Regions from separate parts of the Homo sapiens genome. Here region 2 is linked to region 1. Evidence: fine-mapped expression QTL. Tissue or cell type: whole blood. Region 1 holds a variant in brackets; the other region holds the start of a gene. All regions are shown on one strand. Distances are from middle to middle.

The links. PIP is the estimated chance that this variant, and not a neighbour inherited with it, causes the effect.
Region 2: it holds the start of SHISA4, and the variant in region 1 is fine-mapped to the expression of SHISA4 in whole blood (TOPMed, PIP 0.96).

What each region holds. Positions count from the first base shown.
Region 1 is chr1:201,937,066-201,941,993 of GRCh38, forward strand. The region is part of intron 1 of LMOD1 (leiomodin 1); the gene reads right to left. Among named protein-coding and RNA genes, the nearest start is that of LMOD1, 7.0 kb to the right of the region's middle. RefSeq lists an enhancer at 4,386-4,928. The variant C/T (reference allele first, on the strand shown) is at 2,404.
Region 2 is chr1:201,886,792-201,891,719 of GRCh38, forward strand. It overlaps SHISA4 (shisa family member 4), which reads left to right and starts at 2,107. Exons shown (of 5, transcript NM_198149.3): 1 at 2,107-2,276; 2 at 2,654-2,825; 3 at 3,663-3,796; 4 at 4,610-4,777. The coding sequence starts at 2,204. RefSeq lists enhancers at 1,600-2,109, 1,950-2,244.

The sequences.
Region 1 (4,928 bases):
GATATATGTCATATGTTACATGTTATGTGTATGCATGCTACATATGATCTGCATATGGAAATATATATATTGTCTGTCTCACCCATTAAAATGTAACCTTGGCCAGGTGTGGTGGCTCATGCCCGTATCCCAGCACTTGGGAGGCCAAGGCAGGAGGCTCACTTGAGCCCAGGAGTTCAAGACCAGCCTTGGCAACATAGGGAGACCCCAGTATCTACAAATAATTTAAAAATTATCTGGGCGCGGTGGGACACACCTGTAGTCCTAACTACTTGGGAGGCTGAGGCAGGAGGATCCCTTGAGCTCAGGAGTTTGAAGCTGCAATGAACTGAGATTGCACTACTCTACTCCAGCCTGGGCAACAGAGTAAGATCCTGTCTCAAACAAACAAACAAAAAAAAACAAAAACAAAAAAACAAAAAACACAGTGGCTCATGCCCGTAATCTCAGCACTTTGGGAGATTGAGGTGGGCAGATCATTTGAGCCCAGGAGTTCGACACCAGCCTGGGCAACATGGTGAAACCCCATCTCTACTAAAAATACAAAAAAATTAGCTGGGCATGGTGGTGCACAACTGTAGTCCCAGCTACTCTGGGGGCTGAGGCGGGAGGATTGCTTGAGCCCATGAGATGGAAGTTGCAGTGAGCCAAGATCATGCTACTGCACTCCATCCTGGGGAACAGAGTGAGATCCTGTCTCAAAAACAAACAAACAAACATAGACTGTAACCTCTATGAGGGCAAGAACCTTGTCTCTCTTGTTCACTACTCTATCCTGGCATTTAGAAAGTACATAATAGGAACTCATTAAAGAGCTGGCAAATTAATGATTTAATGGAGTCCTCCTCCCTCCTTGTAAACATAAAGCATGATTCATGAATTCTGTGTATAAAACGAATGAAGAGAATGGGAATGGGAGGAGCGGATAGGAGTGAAGGGAAGGGAGGAAACTAATGTTCATGGGCCTTTACTACTAGGTTTCCAACCCAGCACTCTGCTTAGTGCTTTATGTGGATTATTTTGCTGAAACCTCATAACTATCCTATGACTAAGCATTGTAATTTCCTTTTTTTTTTTTTTTGAGATGGAGTTTCGCTCTTGTTGCCGAGGCTGGAGTGCAATGGCACCATCTCAGCTCACCACAACCTCTGCCTCCTGGGTTCAGGCAATTCTCCTGCCTCAGCCTCCCGAGTAGCTGGGATTACAGGCACGTGCCACCACGCCCGGCTAATTTTGTATTTTTAGTAGAGACGGGGTTTCTCTATGGTAGTCAGGCTGGTCTCAAACTCCCCACCTCAGGTGATCTGCCCGCCTCGGCCTCCCAAAGTGCTGGGATTACAGGCATGAGACACCGCGCCCGGCCGTAATTTCCATTTTATAGGTGAGGAAACTCAGGCTCCAAGACGTGAAGTCACTTGTTTGGGTCATTCAGCCAGCAACCAGCAGAGCTGGATCTGCACCCAGGTCTAGCTGGCCCCTGAGGAGACTATTCTAACCACTAGACTCATATAGTCTGCACTCAGAGCTTCCCTGGGAATTTCTGCCTGAGGATGTAGCACCTTTCACCTGCCAGTCTCAGGGACAGGGGTCCTGCCAGCCCTGCCGGCTTGATCTCAAAGGAAGGCCTATTGAAGTAACAATCAGAAGGAGCCTGTGGGCTGTCCATGAAAGGGTGGTGGAAGGGTGTGGGAACAGGAGGTGCTTCTATTCCTAGCTGTTTGTAAACAGCATCCCGACAACCCGGCTTGTTCTTTCTGCAGTGGGCCCCAGGGACAGCTGAAGCCAAGTTCTCCCAAAGCAGCCTTGGCTTTTCTGAGCTTGTGCTGGGGTGGAAGCCTGCAGACAAGGAGAATCCACCTCAAAATCTTCTCCTAATCTCCTTTCACTCTGTCTTTTTCCAACCCAGCAACTCAGTTTGGGCCCCTGAGCCTGTGACATAAAATAAATTAGGCAGAGGCTCAAAGAAATCAGGCTGCTGGGGCCAGGCAGCGAGTAATTACATAAGCCCTGCCTCCCTGCTTTCCTTCCTCCCCTTCCCCTCTCTCTTCATCATTCCTTCACACTCACTGATGGTTTTTTTTTTTTTTAATTTCGTGAGAGATAAAATAATGTTGATTTGGCAGATATACAGGTACAAACTCTGAAGAGTTTAGAGTGAGGAAAGAAGGTCTCTCGTGATGTGCCAAACACTTTCAATGCCTCATCCTATTTAATCTTCACTATAACCCTTCAAGGATGATTTTATCATCCCCACTTGACAGGTGAAGTAATTGGGCCTCAAGAAGCTATGTTAATGAGATAGCATCGATAAAGCCTTTGGCTCCAGAAGGCACTCAATCAAGTTAATGTTCTTTCTTCCTTGGGTAACTTATTCCAAGTCACTGGATCAGTAAGGGGCAGGAG[C/T]AGAATTCAAACCTGGACCTATCTGATTCCAGACACCCCTGGGCTTTCTGTCTCACCGCACTGCCCAGACACTAACAAGCCATTGGGAGAACTGATGAACCGAATGGAGACCACTGCTCTTTTGCTGGTTAAACAAAAGTGGTCCAATAAATAAGGAAGGGCCTGATCTGGAAAGGCCTGCATTCTATGGCTCAGGATATTCCTGTTTATCCAACTTGGCAGGCATGTAAATATTAGCGTCGCCACTCCTGTCCCCCATGCATGGCGCTGTGTGTTGTTCCTCTGCTCCTGCTGTGTGTGTGTGTGTGTGTGTGTGTGTATACACATGTGTGTAGACTGCCTATCTCTTGGTGTGCTTCATTCAGGCTCTGCACACTCTGGGCCCAGCTGTAGATATGCTGACACGGTCTGACAAAGATACTCTAAAGTCTCCTGGGGGAGAGAAAGAGAGACTGAAGGAGGATAGACAGATAAGACCGGGGCTTTGTCCTCACCTTCTTGTCCCAGCCTGGGGACCATGAAGCTCCCAGAATCCCTGAAGCCTCCAGCCTTCTCTGATGCTGGGAGCAACCTCCCCTTGGTTAGTGGGACTCAGACCCCACCTCTTAACCATCTATATCCCGCTCTCACTGGTGAGCCATCTTATTTTACAAGTGCTCCTTGGTCCTGTCCATCTGTCCTGCCTCCCTCTTGCATTTTCCATCCAGCCAAGCTCTTTTTTTTTTTTTTTTTTTTTTGAGATGGAGTCTTGCTCTGTTGCCAGGCTGGAGTACAGCGGCACGATCTCGGCTCACTGCAACCTCCATCTCCTGGGTTCAAGGGATTCTCCTGCCTCAGCCTCCCGAGCAGCTGGGACTACAGGCATGCGCCACCACACCCAGTTAATTTTTGTATTTTTAGTAGAGATGGGGTTTTACCATGTTGGCCAGGCTGGTCTCGATCTCTTGATCTCGTGATCCACCCGCCTCGGCCTCCCCAAGCACTGGGATTACAGGCATGAACCACGGCACCCGGCCTAACCAAGCTCTTATACCTACTGTCCCAGTAAGGAGAAGGCAGGCACCCAGAGGGCAGCACTGAGGGTGGGAGCAGGCACTAATGCCTCACTTGCTCAAAGTCTTTTTTTTTTTTTTTTGAGATGGAGTCTTGCTCTGTCAGCCAGGCTGGAGAGCAGTGGCTCGATCTCAGCTCACTGCAACCTCCGCCTCCCGGGTCAAGTGATTCTCCTGCCTCAGCCTCCCAAGTAGCTGGACTACAGGCATGCACCACCACGCCCAGCATTTTTTTTTTTTTTTTTGAGACGGAATTCTGCTCTTGTTGCCCAGGCTGGAGTGCAATGGCACGATCTCGGCGCACCGTAACCTCCGCCTCCCGGGTTCAAGCAATCCTCCTGCCTCAGCCTCCCTAGTAGCTGGGATTACAGACATGTGCCGCTATGCCTGGCTAATTTTGTATTTTAATAGAGAAGGGGTTTCTCCATGTTGGTCAGGCTGGTCTTGAACTCCCAGCCTCAGGTGATCCACCCGCCTTGGCCTCCCAAAGTGCTGGGATTACAGGTGTGAGCCACCGTGCCTGGCCATTTTTTTTTTTGTATTATTAGTAGAGATGGGGTTTCCCCATGTTGGCCAGGCTGGTAAAATTCTTTTTTTTTAATTTAATTTTTAATTTTTTAGAGATGGGGTCTTGCTATGTTGCCCAGGCTAGTCTCGAGCTCCTGAACTCAAGTGATCCTCCTGTCTCAGCCTCCCAAAGTGCTGAGATTACAGGTATTAGCCATCACACCTGCCCTCAAAATTCTTTAAATATTATATACATACAGAAGAAAACGTATAATAACAATATTTAAAACAAACACCTGTGGATTGTACCACCTAGTTTAAGAAACAAGCAGTTGCTTTTTCAAACTCTGGATGGAGGCAGTTTCAAATTTCAGGGCGAGATTTTAACAGTCTAACCCTCTCCGGTGCCTGCTTTTGCCTCCCTGGGTCAACAGGCCCCCGTCACCTCTTCTGCCCTCTTCACCCTAGCCTCCAGGGCTATTTTGGGTGTGTACCAGTTGGGGTTAATCTCCTTAAGCATTGAGCCGTGCTGCTCAGTGCACTCCTGATAGGTCCCAACCCTCTGCAAAGGGCATTCTGAGGGTTAGGCCGCCGGCCTCGGGCCTTCCCGGCCCCGTAGAGATACCATGGACACTGAGCTGTGAACTAGAACCGATGGGGGAGGGGGCTGCTGAGGCTGTGCAGGCAGTGGGAGTGGAAGGTCAGGAGGGCTCAGGCCCAGCAGCCGCTATTAGTAGGTTGCTTCGGGTTTGCTTCTCGAGTTTACCTCTAGGGAGAGCTTTCCTCCACCCCCACCAGCTCAGCTGCCCTGACCCTGGCTGGGTACAGGCGCTAATCCCCAGCCCCTGCTAACACCAGGGAGAAGGGAGGGGGAGGCAGGCTGGAGATTTTCTTTCCCACTTGGGAAGGAAAGAGGACACACAAGTTGACCGGTTGGGATCCGGTTCCTGAAACCTGAGACAAGGA
Region 2 (4,928 bases), 50 kb before region 1:
CCCTTGTCAAGGTAAGAAGTGCCAGTTCTCCCAGTGCAGCCAGTTCTCCCCTCTGGTTGGCCCACAGCCCCCTCTCTTCACTCTCTGTCCTAGTCTAGTCACCTCCCATCCCATGAACTGAAACACATTCTTAGAATTTTGCAATTAGAAAATCACTGATGATGTTGGTGCGTGCTAGGTGTCATTGCAAGCTGGAAGTGTCAACTAGGGGTATACACTTTGAGGAGGGCGTGTCAACTAGGGGTATACACTTTGAGGAAGGCTAGTTGGAGAAAAAAGCAGGAAAGTAGCTAGAGAGGGATGAGTTTTAGGAAGGATGTGGTTTGGTTTGGTTTGCTTTGCTTTGCTTTGCTTTAAATAGGAGAGACTTGAGATTTCCTAGGGAAAAGAAGCTGGTAAGGTGTGAGAAGCTAAAGACACTAAAGAGATGGGATAATGAAGAGACAAATCAGCAGGGGTCAAGGGTACACATGGGAGATTCAGCTCTGGGCAGGAAAGACAGTCCCTTATCTGAAGATGATTCAACCAACAATGACAACACTGATGGCTAGGGCTGGATGGCCACATTGAACACAGCCACGTGGTCCCTGCAGTCATGGAGCTTTTAGTGTAGGAAAGAGGAGATGGATGGCAATGGGCACACTGAGTAGGTGGTGCTGGATTCAGAGGCGTTTCTCTTTGTCCCTGCTGCTGCATTTATGACTGTGTCCTGCGTGAGGACATACTCTTGCCCATCAGGCTACCAGCAACTTTCTGGGGCAGGAGCCTATCCTCTCCTATTCCAGCTCTCTTGGGTAGGTGTGCCAGCACCCACAGGGGCCCAGGATGGGGTAGCTCCTCTTTCGGCTGTCCTTCCCTAACCTACTAAGATTCTACTGGGCCTTCCATGGACCTGTCCTGATTCTCTCACCCCAGAACACAAGAAATACTCACTGTCTACACTGTCTGCTGTTGCGGCTGGGGATCAACCCTGATTTAGATTTGGGTCTTCCTGATGCCTCTACCATTTACTGGCTGTATTACCTTGAACAAGTTCTTTAACCTCCATGAGTCCTAGTTTCTCAGTCTGTGAAATGCGATTGATAACACTGATGAACCTTGCTTAGTTCATGGAGTTGTGGAAAGATTCCAGTGAGGTAGATGTGGAAGCCCAGAAGTGTGTGAAAGGGTGTACATGGCAGGGGATTAAGGTAGGCTTTTGATGATCTCCCTGGCTTAATTTGCAGTTCCTCGGAGGGTACCTCATGTAGCATGGGGCATAGTCACTGGCACTCAGTATAAACCTGTGAAGACTGACCTCTCCCATCCTAAAACACTGTCTCCACCTGGAATTAACTGTTGCCCACCTGAAATTAACTGTTGCCCTCCCTATGCTCCGGTGGCTATTGCAGTACAGGCTTGCTCTGTGAAGGGCTTTCACTGTGAAGAGTGTTTAACTGGATGGGCCCCAGGTGGCCCCAGCAGCCTGCCTTCCCTGCTAGTGAGGCCATGGGCTGGTGCATGCCAGCTCTGTCCACTTGAAGGGGGAAGGGTCCATCGTAGGGAGCCAGTGCAGCTGGCAGGGTTCAGGCCTGTGGGCACCGCTGGGGACAAAGCCACTCTGAATGCCTCTCAATGAGTGCTTGTGTTCTGGGAATGGGGGCGGGGTGACATCCAGCCTCTTTCCCTCTCCGCCCCCGACAGGATGTCCCAGGCTGGACGCGGCAGAGGAGGTCCCCCACAAGTGAAGGTCCAGCCCTGCTCCTCCAGGGTTGGCCCATGTGTCTGGGCATTCGGAGGTGGCACCAGGATCAGGGCTTCTGGAGTCCAGCATAGTGATTGGGCCCAGGCCGGGGGCGGGTCCAGGACACAGCCAGGCTTCCCTGGCCGCAGTGCCCAACTGCCCGCAGTGCCCATGGTGGCTCGGATGGGAGGAACCACCGCGGAGCCGGGGACAGGGGGAGCAGGGCAGTGCTCTGCTGGGTGAGGGGCACCCAGCTCCAGAGGCTAGGTGGGCGTCGCTGGTGGGTGGACTCCTGGGCGCTGCGCGGAGCCGCGCCGGCTGGGTTAGCGCGGGCGGGGCGCTTAGTCCCACCCCCAGAGGAGGCGGAAGAGGAGCCCGAGCCTGGCCGCGGGCTGGGCCCCGCCGCAGCTCCAGCTGGCCGGCTTGGTCCTGCGGTCCCTTCTCTGGGAGGCCCGACCCCGGCCGCGCCCAGCCCCCACCATGCCACCCGCGGGGCTCCGCCGGGCCGCGCCGCTCACCGCAATCGCTCTGTTGGTGCTGGGGGCTCCCCTGGGTAAGGGGATGGGGAGAGATGCGGCAGGAGTGGGATGGGGGCGGAGGAAGGGGAGGGACCGATCCGAGGGGCTTGGGCTCGGGGCTTCTCCGAGACCCTCCGGCTGCCACGGGAGCCTTGGGTGTTGCTGGGTCCTCAAGAAGCGGGAAGAGGGAGCTCCAGGATGCTGGGCCATGGGAGGCTGATCCCGGGGTGCAGGGTCAGCTTCAGGCAGAGGCCTCGGGGGCTCTGGGGCTGAGACCCTCAGGGTGGAGACAAGGGGCAACCCTCAGTGTTCGGGAGCCGTCAGGCTGGGGACCGCCGGGGGAGTGGGGCCGAGCGCGGCTGGGGATGAACTGGCCTGGTGGCCACTGGGCACCCCCAATCCCTGCCCGCAGTGCTGGCCGGCGAGGACTGCCTGTGGTACCTGGACCGGAATGGCTCCTGGCATCCGGGGTTTAACTGCGAGTTCTTCACCTTCTGCTGCGGGACCTGCTACCATCGGTACTGCTGCAGGGACCTGACCTTGCTTATCACCGAGAGGCAGCAGAAGCACTGCCTGGCCTTCAGGTGGGTTCCTGCCTCCTCACCCTCACCACCTCCTCTATCCTTTTCTCCAGAGGCCTCCTCTTCCTCCCTCCCGGACTCCTGCCTCCTCCGTTGTCGACCTCCACATTCTTAGCTGAATAGAGTCACCAGGACTCAAGCCTGGCGGCAGAGCTAGGTGCTTAGGTGCTGGTGCCTGGGAGTTCCAGAAAAGGCATGTTAGTTACCTTCATAGGCTTTGACTGGGCCCGGGGTTTCCAGGTTCTTTCTGGAGCCCTCCCTTTGGTCCTGCCAGGTCATGGGGAGGGAGGGTTCAAGGTTAACACCCGGACGACAGTGTAGCTTTGTGGAAGAAGCTCTGGCACAAAGGCAGGAGACTTGGGTTTGATTCCCAGGTCCACTTCTTACTAGCTGTGTGATCTTGGAGAAGACACTTGCCTTCTATGGGTCATTGCTTGCCAAATTAGTGGTTGTCAAACTTTTTTTTAATATATCATATATAAAATAGATATAGAGACTTCTGATTGAAGCGGGGTTTGGAAAAAATGGCTCTAGATTATTTCTAAGGCTCCTTTCAGTGTTATGCTGTATGTCTAATCATTTAAGTTGTAGATATAAAAGCAATGGTTGGGGGCGCACTGCAAATCCCCGTATGCTTCACACTAGCCAGCCAGGCAGCATAGCCTTCTGGGAAGTGGAGGTCCTCTAAGATCTCCTTCACAGGGACTGGGCAGAGCCCCACAAGGAACCCCAAATCTCAGCATGCCATGGCCCCCCTGCTGGCCAGGAGTTGGAGCCAGCATAATGAGGACTCCGTCCTATGAGTGTTGGAAGGTGAGAGGACCTGTTCTTTGTCTAAAGCCCCAAGACCATAGCAGGCATCGCCTCAGCTGTGATCCTCTTTGTTGCTGTGGTTGCCACCACCATCTGCTGCTTCCTCTGTTCCTGTTGCTACCTGTACCGCCGGCGCCAGCAGCTCCAGAGCCCATTTGAAGGTACACCCAGTACTGGGCAAGAAGGGCCTCAGATGGGCTGGGCTAAGTCCAATAATGGGCAGCAGAGAGTTCATGGATTGGGTAAATTCTGTAGTAGTATGTGCTTCTGTATACACACACCTGCCAGCATGAAAACCCAGAAAAATGCTTGTAAACCCGTGAATATTAGAATGTGCCTGGGATATATGGAACATCAGACTTTGTGTGCATTTCTGTGCATACACATGAAGATTCAAATGTGTACAGGAGTGCAGTCTGTCAACAATAGTGGGTGCAGTGGGTGTATGCATACATATGACTCTTAGTAAGTACACGGGGTCAGGTCTGTAGTGATGAACATTAATTGAGTGTGCTCCAGTGGATGGCAAAATATGTGCCTGAGTGTTGGCATGTGATGCACATATGCCACAACCTGATGGACATGGGGACAGTGATGCCATACGGGAGATCAGTGTGGGAGGGAAGGGCTAGGAGAAGACCCTCTTAGTGGCAGCTCTGCTGGATTACAGGATACCAGCCCTGAGCTGTCCCCTTCTTGCCCAAGTGAGATATTCCCTGGGCTGTGCTCCCTGGTTCATGAGGTCTCTGAAACCTGCTGAGGGGAGCAAACTTGCTCAACACAGATTGACCAGCTGGGGCCACGTGCACAGCTCCCTGCTTAACTCTGCCAAGCAGGGTGTGGGAGGCAAAGATGGCCAGCCTGGAGCTTGCCAGAGGCCAGCACCAGGGTGCTTACCTTGGTTTCCTGGGCAGGAGGAGGAGGCTTCCCATAGGAGATGGGTCTCTGAATGCTGATCCTTCTCCCCCATCTAGGCCAGGAGATTCCAATGACAGGCATCCCAGTGCAGCCAGTATACCCATACCCCCAGGACCCCAAAGCTGGCCCTGCACCCCCACAGCCTGGCTTCATATACCCACCTAGTGGTCCTGCTCCCCAATATCCACTCTACCCAGCTGGGCCCCCAGTCTACAACCCTGCAGGTAAGTAAGCAATCTGGAGCCCCTTGCTGCTGCCTTCCCCCACCCCTTGCCCTGCGACCTCCCCTGTGCCTCTCTCATTCTCAGATTCCCTCTCCCAGACTTCCTCCACCTCTAGCCCGAAACCTCCAGGCCCACTCTTCCCTATGGGTCC